Homo sapiens: one gene and its partners. The protein of the gene in region 1 interacts with the protein of each later gene in a pairwise test. Each region holds a gene or a part of one and is shown on either strand. Other genes may lie near its edges.

Evidence for each region. The genes of interacting proteins can lie anywhere in the genome.
Region 2: the proteins of MEIS3 (region 1) and PIP4K2A interact in binary tests that used the Homo sapiens proteins (3 or more experiments, as listed by UniProt).
Region 3: the proteins of MEIS3 (region 1) and ATXN1L interact in binary tests that used the Homo sapiens proteins (3 or more experiments, as listed by UniProt).

Annotation. Positions count from the first base shown.
Region 1 is NC_000019.10:47,416,521-47,424,509, forward strand, and holds the start of MEIS3 (homeobox protein Meis3), read right to left. Parts: upstream 3,008-7,989; 5' UTR 2,562-3,007; coding exon 2,550-2,561; exon of another isoform or gene 1,228-2,549; coding exon of another isoform or gene 952-1,227; intron 831-951; coding exon 658-830; intron 444-657; coding exon 284-443; intron 183-283; coding exon 132-182; intron 1-131. UniProt on the Homo sapiens protein: Transcriptional regulator which directly modulates PDPK1 expression, thus promoting survival of pancreatic beta-cells. Also regulates expression of NDFIP1, BNIP3, and CCNG1.
Region 2 is NC_000010.11:22,536,570-22,543,590, forward strand, and holds part of PIP4K2A (phosphatidylinositol 5-phosphate 4-kinase type-2 alpha), read right to left. Parts: intron 5,479-7,021; coding exon 5,235-5,478; intron 3,506-5,234; coding exon 3,402-3,505; intron 713-3,401; coding exon 632-712; 3' UTR 1-631. UniProt on the Homo sapiens protein: Catalyzes the phosphorylation of phosphatidylinositol 5-phosphate (PtdIns5P) on the fourth hydroxyl of the myo-inositol ring, to form phosphatidylinositol 4,5-bisphosphate (PtdIns(4,5)P2). Has both ATP- and GTP-dependent kinase activities.
Region 3 is NC_000016.10:71,848,964-71,855,984, reverse strand, and holds part of ATXN1L (ataxin-1-like), read right to left. Parts: intron 6,362-7,021; 5' UTR 6,245-6,361; coding exon 4,175-6,244; 3' UTR 1-4,174. UniProt on the Homo sapiens protein: Chromatin-binding factor that repress Notch signaling in the absence of Notch intracellular domain by acting as a CBF1 corepressor. Binds to the HEY promoter and might assist, along with NCOR2, RBPJ-mediated repression.

The DNA.
Region 1 (7,989 bases):
ACAATCATGACGGTTTGGGGACATGGACCAGGTGGCCTTCTCTCTGCACCCCCCCCACCAACCCCAGGGATGGGGCGTCAGGGAAGGAGACCCATTGGAGGAGGGGGTGTGGGGGAGGGCTCGGGTCTCACCAGATTGTCCAGTTCTGGGTTGGAGGAGAAGAGGGGCCTCTCAGAGCGAACCTGGGAGGGAAGAGAGAGGCCGGCAGGGGGATGTCCCGCCTTCCACCCACCCCTCCTCGCTGGCTCTCTGACTCGGTGTGTGGTGGGTGGGAGGTGCCCACCTGCTTGGCAAAGGCAGCGATGTCCTCGTTGAAGGAATCAGAGGAGCAGACGTCACCTCCAGGGGGTGTCCCCAGCCCAGCTCCGGCCCCGTCACGGGGAGAGCATGTAGCCAGTTCACATTTCTCAAAGACCAGGGCCAAGAGGGGGAAGAGCGGGTGTCTGGGGAGGCAGGAAAGGAGAGAGGTTGAGGGAGAGGCTGGGAGGTGGATGGAGGGGCTGCCAAGATGCAGAACAGCTGGGGAGGGGACAAGAGACCCAGAGAGGGAAGGAGACAGAGACTCGTACACAGAGAGAGACAGAAGCAGACCCAGGGAGCAAAGAAGCAGAAAGACAGAGAGAGAGAGACAGGAGCCTGAGACCCGGCCCCACTCACCCATAGATCTCATCCTTCTCCCTCTTCAGGCCGTCGCTGTCCAAGCCTGGGGGCAGGGGCTGGGGAGGCCGGTGCGGGCCATAGGGCCCTGGTACTGCGGGCACTGTCTCTGGGAAGCTAGCCAGGGCTGCGGGGCCATCCACGATGCCTGGGTAGTGCGGCAGCTCATCATACTGGGGGAAGGTGAGAAGAGAAGGGCGGAGCCCCAGGGAGGGGTCAGCACCCCGAGACTCGGCTGAGGAGCTTCTCTATCCTGGAACCCAGGAGATGCCCTTCTGTGTCCCAGAAACCTGCCTGTGGTCCCCAGGTGTCTGAGCCCCCAAGCTTGAAGCCCTCCAGGTCCCCTGGAGCTGCCTCGGTGGGGAGTGAGGACCCCGTCCAGGCAGAGATTCCTGACATGTGGGCAGGAGGACCCAGAGGGAGAGACGGCAGGGTCTGGCTGGGAGGGAAAAGAGATGGAGAAAGTGGCGTGAGAAGACAGTGACAGAGACAGAGAGAGAGACAGACAGAGAGGGAGATCCATGGACACCTCCTGTAGGAACCGCGCATTGTTGTACACAAAGTACACATACGAAGCCTCCCTGTCTTCTATTTCATTTCACAGTTGGCAGATAAGCGCATCAGAGTAAGTCTCAACAACATGTCACACTCCACTCGCCACGTGAATCTACCACACATGTAGACACAGCCATACACACCAACCCACGTGCACACTCATGTGTCAGTCACACCCAAATCCCCCCCCCCACACACACATGCACACACACATGCACACAGCCCAACACCAGGCACAAGAATGAATGCATGATTGAGACATTTGGCACATGGATGAATGAATGAATGAGGCATTTAGCACAGGGCCTGGCTCATGCTGTGAGCACTTGTTGCCGGAGAGGGTCACTCCGCACCACCATACAGACACGATTGCGCACCCAAGAGAAACACCATTATGGGGTAGGACGACCGCGTCCTGTCGTCACAGAACCATGCACCTGGGAAGCCAGGGGCACCTTCCTCTCATCAGGTCAAATCCCTTCCTCAGTGATGAAGACACGGAGGCTCAAAGAGGCAGCAGGACTCGCACGGGAAGAGGCTAGAACGTTCCTGCCTCGGACCCTCGCCTGGCTGGGCACCCTGGTTCTGTGTGTCCCACTCTTTCCCTCTCCCTCTTCTCCTAACTTCTCCTGTGCCCTGAAGTTGAATCCAACTGCTCCCCGCTGCTCAAGGCACTCTCACCAAAAGCGGTCCTCACAGCCTACCCGGAACCCCCAAAACGGGCGCGCGCCTCCTCCCCTGTCTTCTATCCCCGTTCCCATCCCCAGGGAGACAGGCTCCGTGGGGCCAGCAGCCTGGTGAGACCACCTCTCCCACCCCTGTCCCACTCCTAGCCCTGGAGAGGCAGGGGCGGCTTGGAACAAAAGTAGAGCGAAGGGAAGGACGGAGGAGAGCAGAAAAAAGGGGGGACGGTGAGGTGCGGGCGGCTGAGATGGAGGAGGAAGCCCAGGAACAGAGGAGAGAGACTGCGGGTGGGGGAGGGCAGAGAGAGGGGGATAGAGAGGCAGAAAGAGGGGGGAGACCAGGGACAGAGAGAGGGGGACAGAGAGGCAGAAAGGAGGAGGAGAGTGGGGCAGACAGAGGGGGACAGAGGGGCAGGGAGAAGGAGAAGCTAAACGATGGGGAGGAGGCGAGGCCGAGGGCCAGGAAGAGACACTTGGGGGCAGAGAGGGGGCACACAGGGACTGGGAGACCCAGGGGCGGAGGGAGGGGCAGAGAGAGAGCGAGGTGGTGTAGAGGACGGATGGGCTAATGGGGGCCAGCGCCGGAGAGTGGGGGATGCAGGGACAGGGGGTGCGGAAGCGGCCGGGACGCGGGGTCCCCGCCCCGAGACCTACCCTCCGGGCCATGGGCTGAGGCCGGCGGCAGCTCCTGGGTCCCTCCAGAGCCTGGCCGCGGGGGAGGGCGCAGCCCGGGGCCGCAGCCCCTGACGGCCCGCGGTGTTGACGCCAGGGGGTGGGCAGGAGGCCAGGCGCGCGCCCCCCCACCCCCGCCGCCGTCAGCGGCAGGCGCCGGGCCGGGTGGGGACTCCGCGCATGGACCCCGGCCCCCGCCCCCAGCGGGGGTCACGGCCAGGAGCGCATCGCCGCCGGGGCGGGGGCAGCAGGCGCAGGCGGGGCGCCCGAGGCCCCCTCCTCTGGGCCCCCCCCGTCCCTTCCCCGGCTCTGGAGGGAATCGAACCGTCCCGAGACGGACACACCGGGGACCGCAGGGGGCGGGGGGCGGCCCGGGGCGACGGAGGGTCCGGCGGCGGCTCAGGGGTGCTGGCAGCCGCGCTCCCCGTTCCCGGTCTCTCCCTTGTCTTGTGGAAATTAAACAGAACCACCAAGGAGCGGGATAGGGGATGAGCCAGAGTGAGCCTGCAGAGCTACAGCACGAGGGATTGGGGTTAGGGCAGCAGCAGCACTTCCGGTGGGAGTCGGGGAGGGGCAGGCTGTGGGGGGAGGAGAGGAAGAGACCGCGGCCCTGGTGCCCCCAGGCCCCTCCTCTCCTACCCAGGGCTGGGGTTCCTGCTCCGGGTTTCTCAGTCTCCCTCTTTCCCAGTCTCTCTCTCCTTGTCTCTCTCTGTCTCCGCTTCTCCCGTCCTTTCTCTCCTCTGGCTCTCTGTTCTCCGAGCCCCCTGGACACACCACGGACCCCCTCCCTGGCCATCTCCAGGGGTCACGTGGGAATCTGGAGTCTGGTCCCACCGTAGGCTCTCCCCTCTCTGAGGCTCGATTCCCCCTCTGCAGGATGGGCAGTGCGCTGGGGGCGGCGGGGGTGGGCTGTGGATAACGGAGAAACAGTTAAGCTAGAGGGTGCCAGGACTCAGGGTCTTGGCTGAGTCTGGGGGTCCCCATGCCGGCGGGCTCTGCCCCCGTGGCTGTCCTGCGGTGAGGCTGGCCGTTTAAGGCAGTCCGAGGGGAAGGGTCTGGAGGCCTTGCCTTTCCTCAAGGCCGGCGCACCCCAGATAGGGGTTTTGGAGCAGAAAATTAATTTAAATCACTTTTTAATTAAAGACACAAGGCCCTTTGGTCTGCTCCACCCCCACCTCACCCTCAGCCAAGACTTGGGGTGAGGGATGCAAGGGTTAGGAGTCTCTGGCTCTATTTGCTTTTTTGGGGGGTGGTGCATGCTAAGGTCCCCTTAGCCCAGGCTGATTCTGAAACCTAGAGGAGCAAGTGCGGCCTCATCTGACGGCCAGTGGTGGGGGGCGTGGACAGAGCAGGAAGGGAGGGAGGGGGCACCTGGGATGGGGATGGGGCCTAACTGGAGTGGGGAGGGAGGTAACTCCAGTGACGGTGTGATTCAGAGAGAGAGAGAGACAGAGACAGACGCGGGTGGGAGGAGAGAGAGAGAGAGGTGCAGACAGAGTGAGACAGACAGGAGGGGGAGGGAGTGGGGGACAGGAGCTCCAATAGAGACCCTGGAGTCGTCCCTGCCACCCCCAAAACAAGAGCAGGGGGCTTGGACTCTGAAGCATAAATCTTTCTAATTAAAGAAAGAGACGAGCTGTTGGGAAGGGAGAAATAAGTGTGTGGGAGAGAAATTGATTGGGGGAGGATGGAGGATGCCGGCGGGGGACGGAGGGAGCAGGGGGGAGGCTCCGGCTTTCTGAGGCTCTTCCTCCAGTCTTTCCCTCTGTCTGTCCATCCGTCTGTCTGTCCGTCTCTGTCTCTCGCTCTCTCTCTCTCTCTCTCACACACACACACACACACACACACACACACTCTCTCTCTCTCTCTCTCTCTCTCTCTCTCTCTTCCTGGCTGTCTCCCTTAAATAGTCCTGGGACCCTTCTGTTCCCAGGGGGAGGGAGCAGGTGGCGGCCAGGCCTGGTGCTGGAGCGGGGGTGCCTGTGTCACTGCGTCGCGGCTGCCTGTCGGCTCTTCGAGGGTGTGCTTGGGCCTCCCTGTGACAGTGTCTGGAAGCGTCTTCCCTGCCCGGCTGAGTGGCTCCCTGGGTGGCATCAGAGTGACCCCAGCTCCCAGTCTGCAGGGGTCTCCGCCCTCTAGCCCTGTCCTGCACCTGTTTTACAGACGGGAAGCGTGGAGCCCTCTATGAGTAGATCTGGGGGACCTCATGGGTCTCCCCAGCACGGGCTGGGCGATCTCTCAGCGGACTGGCCCTTCAGTGCCCCAACCTGAGCACCGACCACTGGGGCTATGCCCACCAGGCAGCCACGTCCCCCGGGGATCCGCAGTGGTCCCCAGGATCCCCTCTGAAAGCCTACAGGAGCAGACCGAATGAACGAGGATCCACCTTGGGTTCCTCCTGTCCTCTCTCTCGGGCCTGCTAGCCTCCTGCCTCGGTTTCCCCTCTTTATCAACCGCTCTGTGTCTGTCTCTCTCCTTCTGGGGGCCCAGGTTTGCTTCCTCCTCCTCATTCCAGGCTCTCTCTGAGAATCTGTGTCTCTGCTCAGGAGGGTGGGGGAAGAAGGGACCCTAAAAGACAGGCCGTCTCTGTCTCCATCTCCGCCTGGGCTATGTCTGTCTGTCTGTCACCTGGGCTGTGTCTGTCTGTCTGTCTCCTGGCTTTTTTTTTTTTTCTTGTATCTCTGTGTCTCTTTGTCTGGATGTCTTCTCTGCCTCATCTTTCTTATCTCTCTTTCTCTCCATCTTTCTCGGTCTCTCTCTCCAGGGGCCTCTGTCTCTTCTCCCTCCTTCCTCTCCCTCTCTCCGCCTCCCTGTCCCCCCCACCGTATCCTCCCTGGGCTTCTGTCTCCCTGGCTCTCTCCCCTCTCCTCCACCCGGGCCCTTCATAAATACATCGCCCCCTTCCCGTCCTCCCGCTGCCTGGCCCAGCTCCAGGAGAAGGAAACATTTATCTTGGTGGGGGCGCCCACCCCTGCGCCCGCCCCTCCGCCCGCTGGCCACGCCATCCATCACCCGAGCCCAGACTCCTGTGGCTCATTCGTCACCGGCCCTGACAAATGCCTGCCGCCCCCTTCCCCTCCCGCCCCACCAAGCAATCATACCATTAGCCACGGCTCAGCGGTGGCGGGAAGGACCCGGCCTGACCCGGGCGGGGGGCGGGGCACAGGCTGCGGCTCCCACCGAGACCCCTCTCTCCCTCTTTTCCTTCCCTTTCTATCTCTCCTCGCCCTCTCCGTCTTTTTTGTTGGAATCTGCTTTCCTCTGCCAGTTTCTCGCTGTGCCTCTGGGTCCTGTCTCCGGTCCGTCCTCCTCCTCATCCTCCTTTTCCTCACCCTCTCTCCTTCTCTCCTTCTGTCTCTGTCTCTCTCTTACTGAGTCTCTTTCCAGTTCTGACTCTGTCTCTGTGTCTCTCTATAACTGTATCTCTCTGTCTCTGCCCGTCTGTCTCTCCCTCTCTGTCTCTCATCTCTCTCTGTCTCTCCCTCTCTGCCTCTCCATCTCTCTCTCTGTCTCTCCACTCTGTCTCTCCCTCTGTCTCTCCCTCTCTGTGTCTCTTCATCTCTCTGTTGCTCCCTCTCTCTCTGTCTCTCCATCTCTGTCTCTCCCTCTCTCTCTGTCTCTCCATCTCTCTGTCTCTCCATCTCTCTCTGTCTCTCCATCTCTGTCTCTCTATCTCTCTCTGTCTCTCCTTCTCTCTCTGTCTCTTCATCTCTGTCTCTCCCTCTCTGTCTCTCCATTTCTTTCTCTGTCTCTCCATCTCTCTGTCTCTACCTCTCTCTCCATCTGTCTCTCCCTCTTGCTCTCTGTCTCTCCATTTCTCTCTGTGTCTCTCCTTCTCTGTCTCTTCATCTCTATCTCTCCCTCTCTGTCTCTCCATTTCTCTCTGTCTCTCTCTTTCTGTCTCTCCCTCTCTCTCCCTCTCTCTCTGTCTCTCCCTCTCTCTCCATCTCTCTCTGTCTCTCCCTCTTGGGGTCTGTCTCTCCATTTCTGTCTGTCTCACCATCTCTCTGTCTCTCCATTTCTCTCTGTCTCTGTCTCTCTCTGTCTCTCCATTTCTCTCTCTGTCCCTCCCTCTCTCTCTGTCTCTCCATCTCTCTCTGTCTCTCCATCTCTCTCTGTCTCTCCCTCTGTCTCTGTGTGTCTCTCTCCCTGTCTCTCCATGTCCCTCTGTCTGCCATGGGCTCTGTCGGCCCAGCCGTGCCTTTTAAATCTCTGGTCTCTGAGAGTACCCTCGGCGTTGGCCTCACTGGCTTTGTGTGCTGGGAATGGGGTGAGGGTCTTGCCCTGGCGCCCTGGGACGCCCGCCCCGCCCCGCTCCCCACCTCGCTCTCCTCCCTGGTGCTGTGTTCTGAGTCTCTGGGCTTCCTCCGTCTGCATCTTCTCTGCATCCTGTCTGTATCTCTGTCTCTGCTGCCTCTCCGGCCCCTGTGTTTTGTTCTTGGCTCTCTGCTCCCTCTCCAACTTCCCCTCCTCTTTTTGTGTCCCTTCTCCACCTCCTCCACCGTCTGTGTTCCCCCTCTACTGACCCCACCTACCCCTTTCAATCCACCACCCATGACATTCCCTTCCCCGCACTTCCCCAGGGAGAGAATTGCAGGGAGCAGGCAGGGAACGGGAGGCAAAGGTGGCGAGAAGGAGAGAGTGAGGAGGTACCTTGGGAGGCACTGAAGCCTGGAGCCTCATCCCTCTCTCCTTTGGCCATGTGTGCCTGGAAGTCCTCCCTAGTGTCTGATTTCAATCCTCAGGGGGACGGCAGAACGTGGAGGAGATGCCAGGTACCAACCCTTCCCGATTCCCTGGGAGAGGCCGAGGAGGGAGCTGGGGGCATCAGACCAGGAGAGAGGGCAACCTGGGCACAGTCAGTGCTGTGCTGGTGGCCACCCATTGCCTTACTGGAAGAGGGAGGTAGTGAGACCCCCGTTCTGGGAAGTAATCATAGCAGAGGCTGTCTCTGACCCACTCATACCACCTAGGACCCAACAGCATCTCTCACGCTGGCACCTGCGACCCTTCCCTGAATGCTTTCCAGACCAGGGTAGGAGGCGCTAGAAGTCAGCACCCCTAAAGAGGTCCTGGGCCACCATCAGACAGGAGTTAGTGGATACATAACCCAAAGTCTTCAGGTGGGGAACTCCAGAGTTCCCTGAGAGGTCCCCAGCAGGATGGAGACCTCATTGTCCACAGGGTGACCTGCTCATTCAACACTGCCTTTATTATTTATTTATTTATTTATTTGAGATGGAGTCTCGGTCTGTCACCCAGGCTGGAGTGCAGTGGTGTGATCTCGGCTCACTGCAGACTCTGCCTCCTGGGTTCAAGTGATCCTCCTGCCTCAGCCTCCCGAGTAGCTGGGATTATAGCCACCTGCCACCGTGCCCGGCTAATTTTTGTATTTTTAGTAGAGATGGGGTTTCACCATGTT
Region 2 (7,021 bases), on another chromosome or scaffold:
TTATCAGTGTTAGGGAGAGTGTCTGCGTGCGGGGTAGAAATGGAACATTCGCTGTAGGTTTTTTCCTTGGAATCATCATCATTATTATAATAATCATCATTATTATCTTCATTATTCTGAATACTGTCTCACATCTTTCAACTCCAAAAAAAAAAAAAAAAAAAAAAAACTGATCCACAGTTTGTTGTGTGATGCCAACACGGTGCCTGACATCATGCACTTCCTTCTCCCCTCCCCCACACGTGTGTTCATTCACTCACTCACTCACTCACTCATTCATTCGGCCATAGCTGGAATCAAAGGGTCTTTGTTGGGACACATACTGACCGAAGTGGATCTGTTTTAATTAATTTATGACTTTTAAAATGCACACGCGCGCACACACTCACCCCCCCCCAACACACACACACACACATATACACAAAGTCAGAAATAGCTAGAACGATGCTGGGAAAATCAGGTAGCTGTAAAGCGAGTAGCCCCCAAATCAGTCATCTTGGCCTGAAGATGTAAACAAGGAGGTTTGCTTCCTGCAAGATGAGTACTTCACTGAGTTTGGTTTTCATTTTTCCTACACCGAAGCCACCTCTGTCCATCCAATGTTCATGTCTGTCCGAGGCTGCGCAGGAGGTTACGTCAAGATGTGGCCAATAAAGTCCAAAAAGCGCTTTGAATACTGTTCTGGGTTCACGGTGGAGATCTCCGCGCCAGCCTGGGCAGTTTTTAAAAAAGGAAATATTGACATAGTGTTTATGATTTCCCCAAATTATTACTCAATATCTACAGCTATTTCCAATGGCAACTGAATATACAGCAAGCAATTTTCAAATCCATGCAGTCTCTGCTCTGAAAAACATCACTCAAAATATCTTGGCGCTCATGGTTGAATAAGCAAGGTTCTTACAAATCTGTGTCTGCAAATGAGACAAAGGGCGACAGGAGCACCAGATGCTACCACACACACCGGGGCTGTTGCAACTCACAAAAAAATCAAACAGGCCACGTTTGGGATGTTACTATCAAAGAGTGGAATTGTTCAGAAGTCACGGAAACAATACTTATGTTATACTTTTCAAGAAGGCAGACTGGAGCCACCTTGAGAATGACATCAACATTTGGCGAAAGGGAAACCTTAATGACGATGACTTAAAACCGCATGATTTCTTCAGGACCCCTTCGTTTCTGGACAGAGGCCCCCAGCTCAGTGCTCAAACATGAGGGGCAACAGCAGCAGCCACAGGTTCTGGGACAGCTGCCCCCAGCCCATTCCCTGCACCGTAACCAGGTGAGGCACAACACTGCTGGCTCCATCTTGCCCACGGGGGAAGGAGCTGACTTCCCTCTGCAGCAGCACACAGGGGTGCCACTGTTCCCCTTTCTGAGCCCTGCAGAGAGCAAGCAAGCCTGGCCCCCTGCAGAAGCACGGTGAGGGATTTTTCCATGATGAGATGCAGGGTGCAGGCCAGCACACTCAAGGGAGTCACTCACTGGCCAGTTTCCTGAGCTGCAAAGGGCAAGCACGGAGTTTTGCTAAGTGAGCATGTGCTGTTTTTAGACACCCATGTTCACCGGGGAACTTGTAATATTTCCAGGCCTCGGCTGCATGGAGGAGCCCAGGCTTGAATGCAGAGAGAATGGTCCCCCACAGCAGCTTAACACAGCGTTCCTTTGCTGACAGTAATGTTTTCTTCTTGCAAACTACCTGTGATTTTATGCCGTGTGGCACACTATGGAGGCGAACTTGTGGCTTATGGGGAGATGAACATGGAGCCATATTGGCTAGGATAGGAGAGATGAACATGGAGCCATATTGGCTAGGATACACTCCAATTTCACAGGATGTATAATATGGGAACAGACATTTACAAAGCATTTGTCCAGACAACTCTTGTATCTCTGGCAAAACCCCATCAGCAAGGCAGTAGGATTTCTGTATGAGGTGAAAAAACAGGAGCTCCAAAAGTGTCCCCTTGAGGTCATACAAGTGGGAAGGGTCAAACGAGGATTCCTCGCCAGTTCTCTCTTTGCCACACTCCATGGTTTTCAACCAGAGGTGAGCATCAGAATGACCATGGAGTCTTCTGAAGACCCCTCCCTCACCCTCCTGAACTGGCCTCAGAAATGACGGAATGGGGGTGGTGCACCTGGTGCGGATGTTTGTTTAAAAAGAGTACTCAAAAATTTCTGTTGGGGGGAAGCCACCAGGCACACTTGCTTACTGACGTGCTCGGGGGCGGTGAGGTCCCAGTCTGTGCTCTGCACACAGCAGGAATACCATAGCTATCGACAATGTGACTGAAATATTTCTTTGGCAAATAGAATACTGTGTTTGTTAGGCTGATTTCTATTTTAAAATAGAAAAGAAGAGGTTTCAAGTGAGTTTTTGGTTCTGGTGAATCTTCATTAGTTCTACACAGTCTGTGGGAAGCACCTCTTCTTCCAGGGCCAACAAACCAGGGAATACATTCATCTGTGTGGGGTGGGCTCTATGGCTTTCAGGACCTCTGCAAAACAAAGATGGCACCCTGCAATACAAGCCTGAAACTTGGCGAGCTGTAAAGTTCAGCCAGGCAGGAGGTGTTTGCAGGCAGGGCAAGGGGATGAGCATGAACACAGAGCCAGGAGGGGGCTGGGTCCGGGGGAGGAATCTCATCTCTGCCACTTGCTACTATGAGGCCCTGGCAAGTTACTCCTGAAGCTATTTTCCTCAGTTTCTCCAACTGACAAAAGCAGGTACACTACTATCTCTTTCATAGGCTTCTCATGGGGGATAAAATAGCTTAACATATGGCTAGAGCAGTGAAAACTCCCATCAAGCAACATTAACGGTGAGTAATATTATGCAACTTTGATTTTGCACTCAAGAGATTTCTGTAGTAGAAAAAATACAACTCACTGTGAGAAAAGAAATATTAATCCTGTATACTTGGGAAGTGTCTTAAGCAGACAATCATGCTTCAGTTTTGAATATTTCATATTAGAACACTTCATTATCTTCTTTTGCACTTTTATCTCTGGAACATTTTTCAAACAAAAAAGAATTTGTGTAACATCCTAGTGATGCGCATGCCTGTTAGTGTCCGCCATGTGTAAAAAGAAGAGATGTTCATGTTTAAGTGACTTCGCTGGAAGCCACAGGGAGCTGTGGTAAGAGCAGCAGTGAGCAGTAAGCGTTTGTGGGTTCTGTATCTTACGCTCAGAACATGACTTGCCCCCAGGGAACAAGCGTCACTAAAGGGCTTTGAATGGCTCAGTAGAAAGCAGCTCAGTGGCAGAAAGGAGTGATCCCTGAGTTACAGGTCACACAGAGGAGCCAGGAGAGAGAGAGAGAGAGAGAGAGAGGGAGAGAGAGAGAGAGAGAGGGAGAGAAAGAGAGAAGGAAACAAAATGGAGATACTCACGCCATGTTTAACAGTTTTTGCAGCATGGGCAGCTTTCTTTTTTGCATCATAATGAGTAAGGATGTCAATAATTGCCATGAAGTACACCTCCTTCCTAGGCGAGTCTGCAGAGACAGGAGAGCAATGACTGTGGGACATGTGACAACACCAGTGCCAGCATTGCTGCTGAGGGAGGGAGGGAGGGAGAAGTGAGCCTGGAGGGAGGGGATTCAATGGAACGCGGATGGAAGGAGTCCAGAGACAAACTCTACACCACCCCTGCGGATCCTGACTAAACACACAGCTTGCCTCTCTGACCCAGTCCCCCTGCAATTTAAAAAGAAACAACCCTAACAACTAAAAACATCATCACACCAGGGTATCAACAGTGGAGATCCAACGGTGGAACGGAGTCTTTTTTTTTTTTTAATTTGCATTTTCTTTAATAATTGTGTATTGCTTTGGTGTGAAGAAATATGCTATTTAAAAATACCCTATAAAACAGAACTAATTATGTACACTAATCCTTTACATCAAATGGTAGAACTGTTCATAATTCTCACTGGATACAGTATCAGAACTGGATAAAGGCATACATCCACTCCAATGTCTATTTTCTTTTTTTGAGACAGAGTTTTGTTCTTGTTGCCCAGGCTGGAGTGCAATGGTGCGATCTTGGCTCACAGCAACCTCCACCTCCCGAGTTCAAGTGACTCCTGCCTCAGCCTGCCGAGTAGCCGGGATTACAGGCATGCATCACTATGCCCAGCTAATTTCATATTTTTAGTAGAGATGGGGTTTCTCCATGTAGGTCAGGCTGGTCTCAAACTCATGACCTCAGGTGATCTGCCTGCCGCGGCCTCCCAAAGTGCTGGGATTACAGGCATGAACCACTGCGCCCGGCCCGTGTCTGTTTTCTATCCATTTCCAAAAATATGAACAGTAAGAAAAGTACATTTGACTATCTAATTTTCTGTGTTGAAGAAAACATTTTGGTGAGCAAAACAGAACAAAACAGAACTCAGATCCTCAGCTGATATGCCATTTGAGATTAAAAAACAACTGATGAGCCACAGTTTTTATTATTCAAAAACCAAGAAGCTGTTTTTATCCTATCACAAAAATATTTTGGTATTGTCACGGATAAGTTGCTAAGGTAGGATGTAATATTCAAATAACTGGTGCACCCAATCACCTGGATACGGTGGATTAAGATTTATCTGACTCTAGGGAAGAGGGCCATAGGCCCTTCCATGGGGGAGGACAGCAGAGCCAGACTCAGCAGCAAATCAGATTCCCACCCCACCCACAGGGCCCATCTTCACACACCCTTCACACCCCTGAGAGGGAGAGGGCTGTTGGTAATGACAAGAGGACAAGCTAAGGGTCACAGAGGATCACATGCATGTGCCTAGCTTAGACTCATGATGCTTTTGACTTAGATAAAAAAGATAACTAGGCAAAAACGTATTAATATTTTAAAGCATTTCTGATGTTATTTGTGAACATGTATGTGTGCATATGTACATGCATGTTGTGTTGTGTGTGCACGTACGTTGTATGCCAGTGTGTATGTGCATATGTACAGGTGTGTTGTACATGTATAGTATAGTTCGTGGTTTTGCTGTATTCCCTCAACATCACAGAATTCAAAGGTCCGATCGCCTTATGTTTCAGCACTGAGATCACGGTTAGCTTTAACATACTCTTGTCCCCAAATCCATTTCTTTGGAGTTTGGAGGATGAGTGCTGCCGGGCAGCACCCTCATAACTGGGGTAGTGCTTACTGGTAGATAACAAGGCCAAAGTCAAACCACTTCACATGCAAAAAGGGTCCACAGTAATCAAACTTACTTTCATGGCACTTAATTCCATAGACGTCGATGTTCGGATCGAACTCCCCGGGAGCCAGGGGTGGTGAGCTGTTCAGTGTATTCCCGGGGCTATCTGGGGGGGTTCCCACCGGGTGGGTGCCATCGCTCTCGCCCTCCTCCTCCCCATCGTTCTCCTCACACTCCACTTCCTCCTGTTCGGCTCTCTCCACATCATGAATTCCCACCAGCAGACTGTAGTCCATGAGCTTCAGCTGGGCCAGAAACTGGGGACAGAGGCAACAGGGTGAGTCAGCCACACCTTAAACATAAAAGCCAACATTTAAAGGAGACAAGCTCGGGTGACACCCAGAGGGAAGGCTGTGGGGTGGGGCAGCAGAGGCGCCGGGTGCCTCCTTCACGATGCTCTTACACTCCTGGGCTGTTTCTCTATCTAAAATGTAGCCTCACACTTCAGGCTGGCTCAGAGCTCAGGCTGTTTACCCTGGAATGCCACACTGGATGCGGAGAGGTGTGTATCTATCACAGGGTGGCTGGATTTCACCAGATAGCAAGGAGCATGACCAGTAAGAGATGCGGAGAGAGACTGGGAGAGAGAGCAAGTTCCTCCCAATGATTAAGACTGGCTAATGGGGAAACCCAGGCATCTCCCAAGTAGCTTCCAGCGGAGTCTCTGGTGGTAGTTCAGGAAAGCACCCTGGAATTCAGCATGCTCTGTGGAGGCGATTGTTACGCTGTTGTAAATAAGTAAAAGTAAAGGCACTGTGTCCACATCTGGTGAGTAATGCAGTCCTGTCCAGGTCAACAAGGTGCTTTCCACGTGTGCTTTCCACGAAGCACCACACATCCAGGATTCCTGTCCTCCCTCTCCTCCTCCAGCCGTGGCTAGAACATAATGTGGGGGCAAGACCCAGCTCTGTGTGTTTGGCTACTCCTGTCTGCCCAGTTCTTTGACTTTTCAGATCACGATTTCTCTTTGTTTCCCTTTTCTTATTTGAGACCTTCAGCACAACGTTCCAATGTTGCCATAAGATGTGGATGGTTGTGCTGAGTGCAAACAGTGGCAGCCCATCTGCGGGCTGGACCCAACTGGCTCCCTGACCCCGTGGCTGGCTGGCTCTGCACAGGATCCTGTTCCACTCCGACCTTGGGCTCAGGGTCCAGGAAGGTTCACGGTCCTGGCTCTGGAAGGACTCAGTGCCACCTCGCTGGGGAATGCAGAGTGGCTGAGCAGCCTCTGGGCTATGCTGATAGAATTTAGGAAGCAGATGTCCTCATGCAAAGGGCAAACAGATAAAATCACAGGTCTTGAAGTTCTGGCTAAAAATGAAATCAATTTGCTAAGCCCCGCAGAGTCATTTCTCCTCAGCCTGCTGGGAAGGAGTTCTGTCTCGAAACTGAATGAGAAGCCCCGATTCCTTACAGACGAGGAGAGGACCCCTGGGCACAGGGCTATCCCACTCTCCAGCTGGTTCCTGGTGCCTGCAATTCTCCATCAGCCAGCACCCCGCTCAGCCCAGCAAACTGGCCAGAGCTCCCACTTCGCTGCCTTCCCAACAGGAATCCCCCAGGGCCAGCTATATCTTCCCCAATTGTTTTGAGCTCAAAAAAGAGAAATCACACAAATCTTACACTCAAATATTTAAGCAAAGTGGGAGAAACCTGTTTGTTTAAAAATAGAGGCAAACCCCTCGTGGAAACAGCATGGGGCTCCTGCGTTCAGCTTTCTGGGTCCCAGAGAAGAGGGGAAGCCACTGCTCATCCCCCCTGGTCTTTCCCCAAACTCCCCCATTACAGTAAACATGAGAA
Region 3 (7,021 bases), on another chromosome or scaffold:
CCAGATGCTTATTTTATTATTGCATAATGTGGGAGACCTTCCCTACCCCAGGAAAGCTGGAGAGTGAAGGCTTCCCAGCAAAGGGCAAACAGGTTCCTGATCGACATCCAACCTAATAAGGTTCAGCTCCTCAACTGTAGTGTACACTTTTGCCCATCTGGAAGGTACTATAGCTTCAGTGTGGTTTAGTAAACTTAGCCTAGGAGGCCAAGATGTCTCCCTAAAACTTAGTCTCTGTCCTATTTACTTTGTTTATAAGACTGTGACCTAACTTCCCATGGCCAATTCAATCGACTAGGTTATCTTTACTCCAATGGACCCAGGCCTTTTCCCAGTCAATCCATGTCCAACCCTTCATCTCCAGCGTGATCACTCAACTCTTCAACATGCCTGCTTGCTGCAGGTTTAAACCACACCACCATCCTGTGCTTCCCCCTAAATCGCCCATGATGCCCGCAGGTAAAAATAAAACTAAACCCCACTTGAGGTGCTATTTCAGCCAAACTTTAAACCCTCTCCGAACTCCAGAATCCACCTAACTGGAGCTGGACGAACTTCACTGGGATGCTGGCATGGGCCCTAATGTGGTTCCCTTCATTTAGTTTTTAAAACAGGATACAAGATACCACAAAGGAAAGAAGTTAATACAACAGAAGACACCACTAGTAGAAACCTGCTTGTTTCTCCCTCAAGATAGTCAGACATTTGGAGCCAGAGGGCTCCCAACAGCACTGAAGCCTTATCCCTTTGGATTTACCAGCCCACCAGCAGCATTTCATACCATCCCTATCGAACATGACTTCGCTATAAAATAACATGGCCTAACACAGGTAAGAATGAACCGGACGCCTACACTTAATCTACATGGCCAAAGACATGGAAGGATAGGGAGCTGTAGAGGACAGCAGGCAGGACAGTGAGCGGACAGCAGCAGTGGCAAAGCAGCGCAGGGCAAAGCCCTTGGTGTTATGACCAACTGGGACCAAGAATATAGAAGGACCAGCCCAGATTGGCTGGGGGCCCTCCCTCAGGTACAAGTACTCAGCTCTGAACTCCCAGAGCCCCTTCCCCCCATGCCACCTCTTCCTCATGTATACTAATCTTGATAGGAATGATTCAAGACTTGGCTTATTATCCATCCATGACTGGGTTCCCCTATTCCCAAATTGGTATACACATTTTTATACAGCGCCAGACAGTCAGCAGTCCTCCTTTCTATTCCTAAGAGCTGGAAATGTCCTACTGCTGACAAGGGACAGGCTCTGGCCCTTGTCAACTGCTCATTCTTAAAAAGTTGGCAACTTCCCACTAAAATACTCGCTAAAAACTGCTCTCATGTCTCCTGCAAACTCAGGAAATTCCTATAAGGAAGAATGGACACACCACAGGTTAGTCATATTTTTCATGCCTGGAGGAAAAGACTAAACTAGAGGTTAAAGGCAAGGGGGAGGCCACAGCTCTGACCGAGATTTAGAGCACAGAGATTCTTTTCCTGGGGACCATATTTTATGACAGATACCTTTGCAGCTCAGCAAAATCAAGTATTAATATGTTATATATGCATGGAACGATATTGTGGTATTACAGGAACTGCTGGTATTGCTTCACCAGCAAGAGACAGCAACAGAAAGGTCAGGGCCCAACTTGCCAGGGTCCTCAAGAATTTCTCTTTCCAGAATTCAGTGGAAGTTACCAGGTTGGAAAGTCACAAGTAGCCCAAGTGGAAGGTGATTTGATCTAAACTAATTGGTCTGTATCTGGTTAGACATAGGTTTGCCCCATAAGGAGAAAGCTCAGCTTGTGTCCTTGCAGACACTGCTTGAGCATCTACTGTGTACATGTCACTAAATTCAGTTGATGAGCCTTCCTATGAGGAAGGACGCTTGTGAGAAACCCATGCAAACAATGAACTCTAGGAATGAGTTGCTCATGAAACAGCCAGAGATGAGGCCTTCTCCCAAGGCCTTCTCATTTGAGGGGATTCCTCAAGACTCAACCCCACAGGCCCCCACTGTAGGAAACAAGCCAGAGAAAGCAGCATTCAGAGAATGGGGGACAGAGAAGGGGAAAGATATGATCCCAAATGCAGTACAAAGTTGGCGTCTGGTTCTGACACAAACCAGATACTGAAGCACTCACGGTCAGGTCAGCAACCTCCTTTGATGGACCCCCAAAAGCTGACTGACCAGGCAAACTGCTTTCAAGGAATGAAAGAGTGGAGGGTAGGGCTTGTAGCAAACAAGCCAGTTTCAGTCACTCTGTTCCCCCAGGAGAACAACCTTTAGCACCTGAACACTAAGAATGACTCCATTCTCAGAACTTCCCCTCCCCCCAGGAGGTAGGTAAGATTATTTATCCCCATTTGGCAGGTGGGGAGGAAGTGAAAGAGCCAGAGGTCACGAGACTTGCCGAAAGTCCTTGACAGAGCAGAGATCAGACCTCAGAGGTTTGGACTCCTGATGCCAGGCCAGGTCTCGGCCAATCCAAGTATACCTTATAAAGGACATGCCAGGATCATAGCCTGGGAGAAGTCTAACCAGAGAGCTGCGTGGACAATACCCTGAGTTGCCTTCAAGAGTCTAAAGACCCCCAAAAAACAAACAAAAAAACTTACCCACCTGAAAGCTAGTGGGGGAGCCTAATTCCCAATACCCAGTGGAACCCCACGGTCTGAGCTGATGCTAAAAGTTGTGAAGAAAATGTGGGATTAAGACATTGGTGGGGGGTAGGGGGGGTGCCAATGCAACCAAGATTGAAAATACTTTTTGCAGAGGAATATACCAACACAAAATGACATCTATTCAGGTACTGAAATGTTATCAAGACTATCCTAGAATCTTAGAGCTGGTGGTGGGAGGGGATGGCTTGGAGGCACCAGAATGCTGGGAGAAGCAGTGGAATAAGACAGGAGGGGCATATGGGACATGTGAAAATGCCATGATGGGCACTGCCCAGCCACGCATTCGCCCTGGCCCAGGGCATAGTTCCCTTCTTGTTTCTTCACCAAGCTGTTTGGCAGTGGAAGTGGAGGGGACATGATTTTGAGATTTTAAAAATAGAGATTATAGCTGAAGGGGAAACCAGAGAGACCCCCTACCCACCAAAAACTAGAGGTCTTGGTCAGAGTGGACAAAACCAACTTTGCAGACAAGGAAAGGCAGTGCAGCTACAAATGAGGCCCAGGTCACGACACCATGCAGCGGTCAGCGCAGCAGGAGGGTGGGGGTGGCGCAGGCACTTGGGCACAACACAGACAAAGGTGGGGGGTCAGTGCCTGGGAAAAAGGGTCTACTAGTTCTAAAGTCACCATTACCAGCAAGATTCTGTGAGATTTCAAAGTGGGTCTGGCATGCTGAGATGGAGGAGCTTTGTTAGGTGAGCTACCTTTCCAGAGGGCCTGCCTAGAACCCAGTCAGCCTGGCTATCAAGTCTTTCTCCCAAAGTCCCCTGACTGAGTCCCTGGCAAGGTAGTACTTCACTCTGAACCCTGAAGGGGCTCTCCCTCCGGGCCCCCGTGCTGCTAGAAGCCTTGTAGGCAGAATGGTGAGGAGAGATGGGGAAGGGCTATGAAGCAGAGGATCAAGCAGAGTCCTGCAGATGAGAGTGCTCCTCCCCCACACACCCAGCCATAGACATCTGGAACAAAATCACCCTTTAAAGTGCGCATCTCTCACAAGAAGGGTTCTGGGTGGGAACCCTCTTATTTCCAACCTTGGGGCCTCCTGCCCTTCTACCACAAAAAAGAAAAAAAACTTCTGACAGTTTAACTGCTACTATAAGCTGTGGATCATCATTTTTGGCTCTTTCTTTACTCCCTCCCTCTGCCATCTGCTCCCAAAGCCTGGACTTTCTCTTGCAGGAGCTAGGGATGGGGAGGAAAGAACAGGGAGGCCCTGATTTTGGAATGTTTCTTCTCCTGTGTGCACCCCCTTCCTTCCTTGCCCCAGGCCTGCTGCTCCCCATCACAACACCCTCTGGGGTTGTCCTGAAAGGATGCCATGGGGTAATGAACAACAGATCCTGCCTTGGGAGGCTGACTTCATGCCTCCCCTTTCCCCCAAATCTCACTGCCAAGAAAGCCATTCCCTGCTCGGCGTGTGCAAATCCTCTGCCTGCTCACGGCGGCGAGGCGAGGCTCTGGGGTAAAGCCCCAGTCCTGGTCTGGGGAAGAGGTTCATTTTCCCGCATTGGAACGCCCTTCAATGGACAGCTTTACCTCCTGTGGAATGAAAGAGGGACGGAGCAGCGCAGCCCGTGCCTCCTCCCCTTGCATGCTGTATCTTTGGAAGCTCGGGGCTGGCCAGCAGGCCTGAGCACCGGACTCAGGCTGGGAAGGCTCTACCACACGGGAGCCCTCTCCTGCCGGCTGGCTCTTCCCCTCACTGTCACATAGCTCTCTGGATCCCAAGACCGTCCTCTCAGGCCTTTCTCGGGGGGGACCCAGCTGGCTTGGGGGAGCACAGCTGGCCTGAGAAACTGAGTTACTGTTCAAGCTCTGTAAACTGATAGAGATGCAGACATCTCCCACCTGTAGCCGATGGCAGGGCAGAGAGAAGAGTTGTGTCGTCCGCCCAGGGCTGCAAGAGGACCAACCCTGGCCATATACAAAGAAGGGGTGCTCGGGGGGCACTTCGATGCTCACTTTGCTCTGCTGCTCACCAACCACAAAATGCAGCATGACAAATCCAGGCCATTGGCTCTCCTGAATGTCCACGACCGTGCTAGAGTCAATCTTCAGCCCCCCGCTCACTTCGGCACTGCGCACAAAATCCTGGGTCTGGAGGTCCTCCACCCGCTTCAGCTCTCCCGTAGCCAGCTGGATGATGGCGCCTTTCATGAAATGGGAAGGCAAGTGAGAGGAGGTAATGGGGGGCGGCGTTGGCTCCTTGTCTGGGAAGGTGGCTCTGGCCTGCACGTCCAGACTTGATGCTACCAGGATCTCCGAGCCCACAGGCAGCAGGCCTGAGTCAGTTCCAGTGGGCACCAGGTTGCCATTGGCTACAACCATTGCTTTGGGTAAAGGTCTATGTTTTACTGGTTCCTGATGGGACTGAGGGTAGAACCCACGGGCCTGACTTTTCTCTGCCAGCTCTGCAGGGTTCCTGGCTGACCCTCGCCCCTCACCCTGATGGTCGGGGGTATGATGGGATAGGTTGAGGGGGCTGGGTTCCTCCTTCCTCTGAGCTGCCACCACACGATAGTCCTGAGAAGCTAAAGCGCCAACCACCCGCTGGACCTCAAGGTCAGTGTCCGGGGTCCCCCGGTGTGCTGGTGCTGCTACCTCTACCCGTGGAGTCTGAGAACCTGAAAACAACTGTCCATCCACCACACATTCTACCACTGGCACCAGTCCCTGGCCTTCACCCTTGCTGTTGGGGGAGTCAAGGGCTTCACTTTCCCGTCTTACTAAATTTCGCTCTCGTGGTCTCTGTCCTCCATTTGCAGCAGCTGCTTCCAGAGCAGACTGGCTCTCCTGAGGGGTAAGAACTGGGCTGGCACCTGCTGGAGGGGTTTCATGCAAAGTATACCCAGCAGGTAGCCTGGACATCTGATAATAAATGGGCATCCGACCTGGAGCAAGGTCCAGCGGCTGAGTACTTGAATGATGTGGCAATTGCCCAGATGGGGAGGTGGCAGAGGGAGCTTTGTTAAATGAGTGGGCCGGGGAGGGAGCCTGTGGGGGAGGAGTGGCTCCTTCAGCCAGAAGTGAGGCATATGGCACAAAGTGTGGAAGGTGAGAGGTGGCAAGGTTGGCAGAAGGAGATAGGAGGGGACTCGGTAGGAAATTAGGTGGCACAGCATAGGGAAGGCTATAAGGAGACCCAATGAACTGCAGCGAGGTGGATGGGAGCTGAGCATAGTGGAGTGGAGGATAGTGGATGCCTGGATGTTGAATTAGTGAAGACGCTACATTAAACGTTGGGGGCAAGGGACTCATATTCACCACAGATGGGAGTCCAGTTGGTGAAAAGGTGGCAGGCGGCACAGCCACCTTATACAGCATGCCATACTGGTCCACTGTCAGACCGGTGATGGCCTCAGCTCCATCACCCCCCAGGCTGACTCTGGCTCCTGCCTGGCTCTGCCCAGCCACCACAACCCCTCGGGACCATTCAGAAGCATCACTGGAGGGTGTGTGGTTAGTGGAGCAGCTGGTAGTTCTCCCCATATCCTCGCTGGTCACGGGGAGGTCTCGTTTCTTTGGTGGAAGGCATTCCTGACTCCTTTCATGAACAGGTTTCATATTGCTTTGTGGTGTTCCTGGAGCCTGGAAGGAGTCGACTTGCTCCCTGGGGCATCAGAAGGGGCTTCTCTGTAGCTTCCCTGTACCCCTCTCTGCTTCTGGCTGGGGCGCCCACATCTATTAGGGAACAAATCAGAGGCAAAGAAAAGTAACCTAGGGATGAGCCAAGACAAAGGAAATAGAAAGAACTGTGCCATGGAGGAAGATGTAACAAAGGGGACTGTTAGAAAATAAGGAGGAAAGAGAAAGGGGCAGACAAGGAGGCTACCCCCAACTCATCCAGCCTGGGACATGAGAGAAACAGTCGGGGAAATCACAAGGCACAAAGAGCTACAGGGACACGCATTCACCAATGCACAAATAACCTGTGGGCTCCACAAGCCCAGGGAGACCAACAGCTTCACGGTTAGTCATGTGTCTCATAAGCACCTTGTCTCTTTTCTGCCTTCTTCCCAAAGGGGGCTTTGAACACATGGTCTTTCCTGCTGGCTCTTTTGCTTTTTTTTTTTTTTTTTTTTTTTTTTAAAACACATGGAGTTTTGCTCTTGTTGCCCTGGCCACAGTACATGGTGCAATCTCAGCTCACCGCAACCTCGCCTCCCGGGTTCAAGCAATTCTCCTGCCTCAGCCTCCCAAGCAGCTGGGACTACAGGCATGCACCACCACGCCTGGCTAACTTTGTATTTTTAGTAGAGATGGGGTTTCACCATGTTGGCCAGGCTAGTCTCGAACGCCTGCCCTTGGGTGATCCGCCCACCTCAGCCTCCCAAAGTGCTG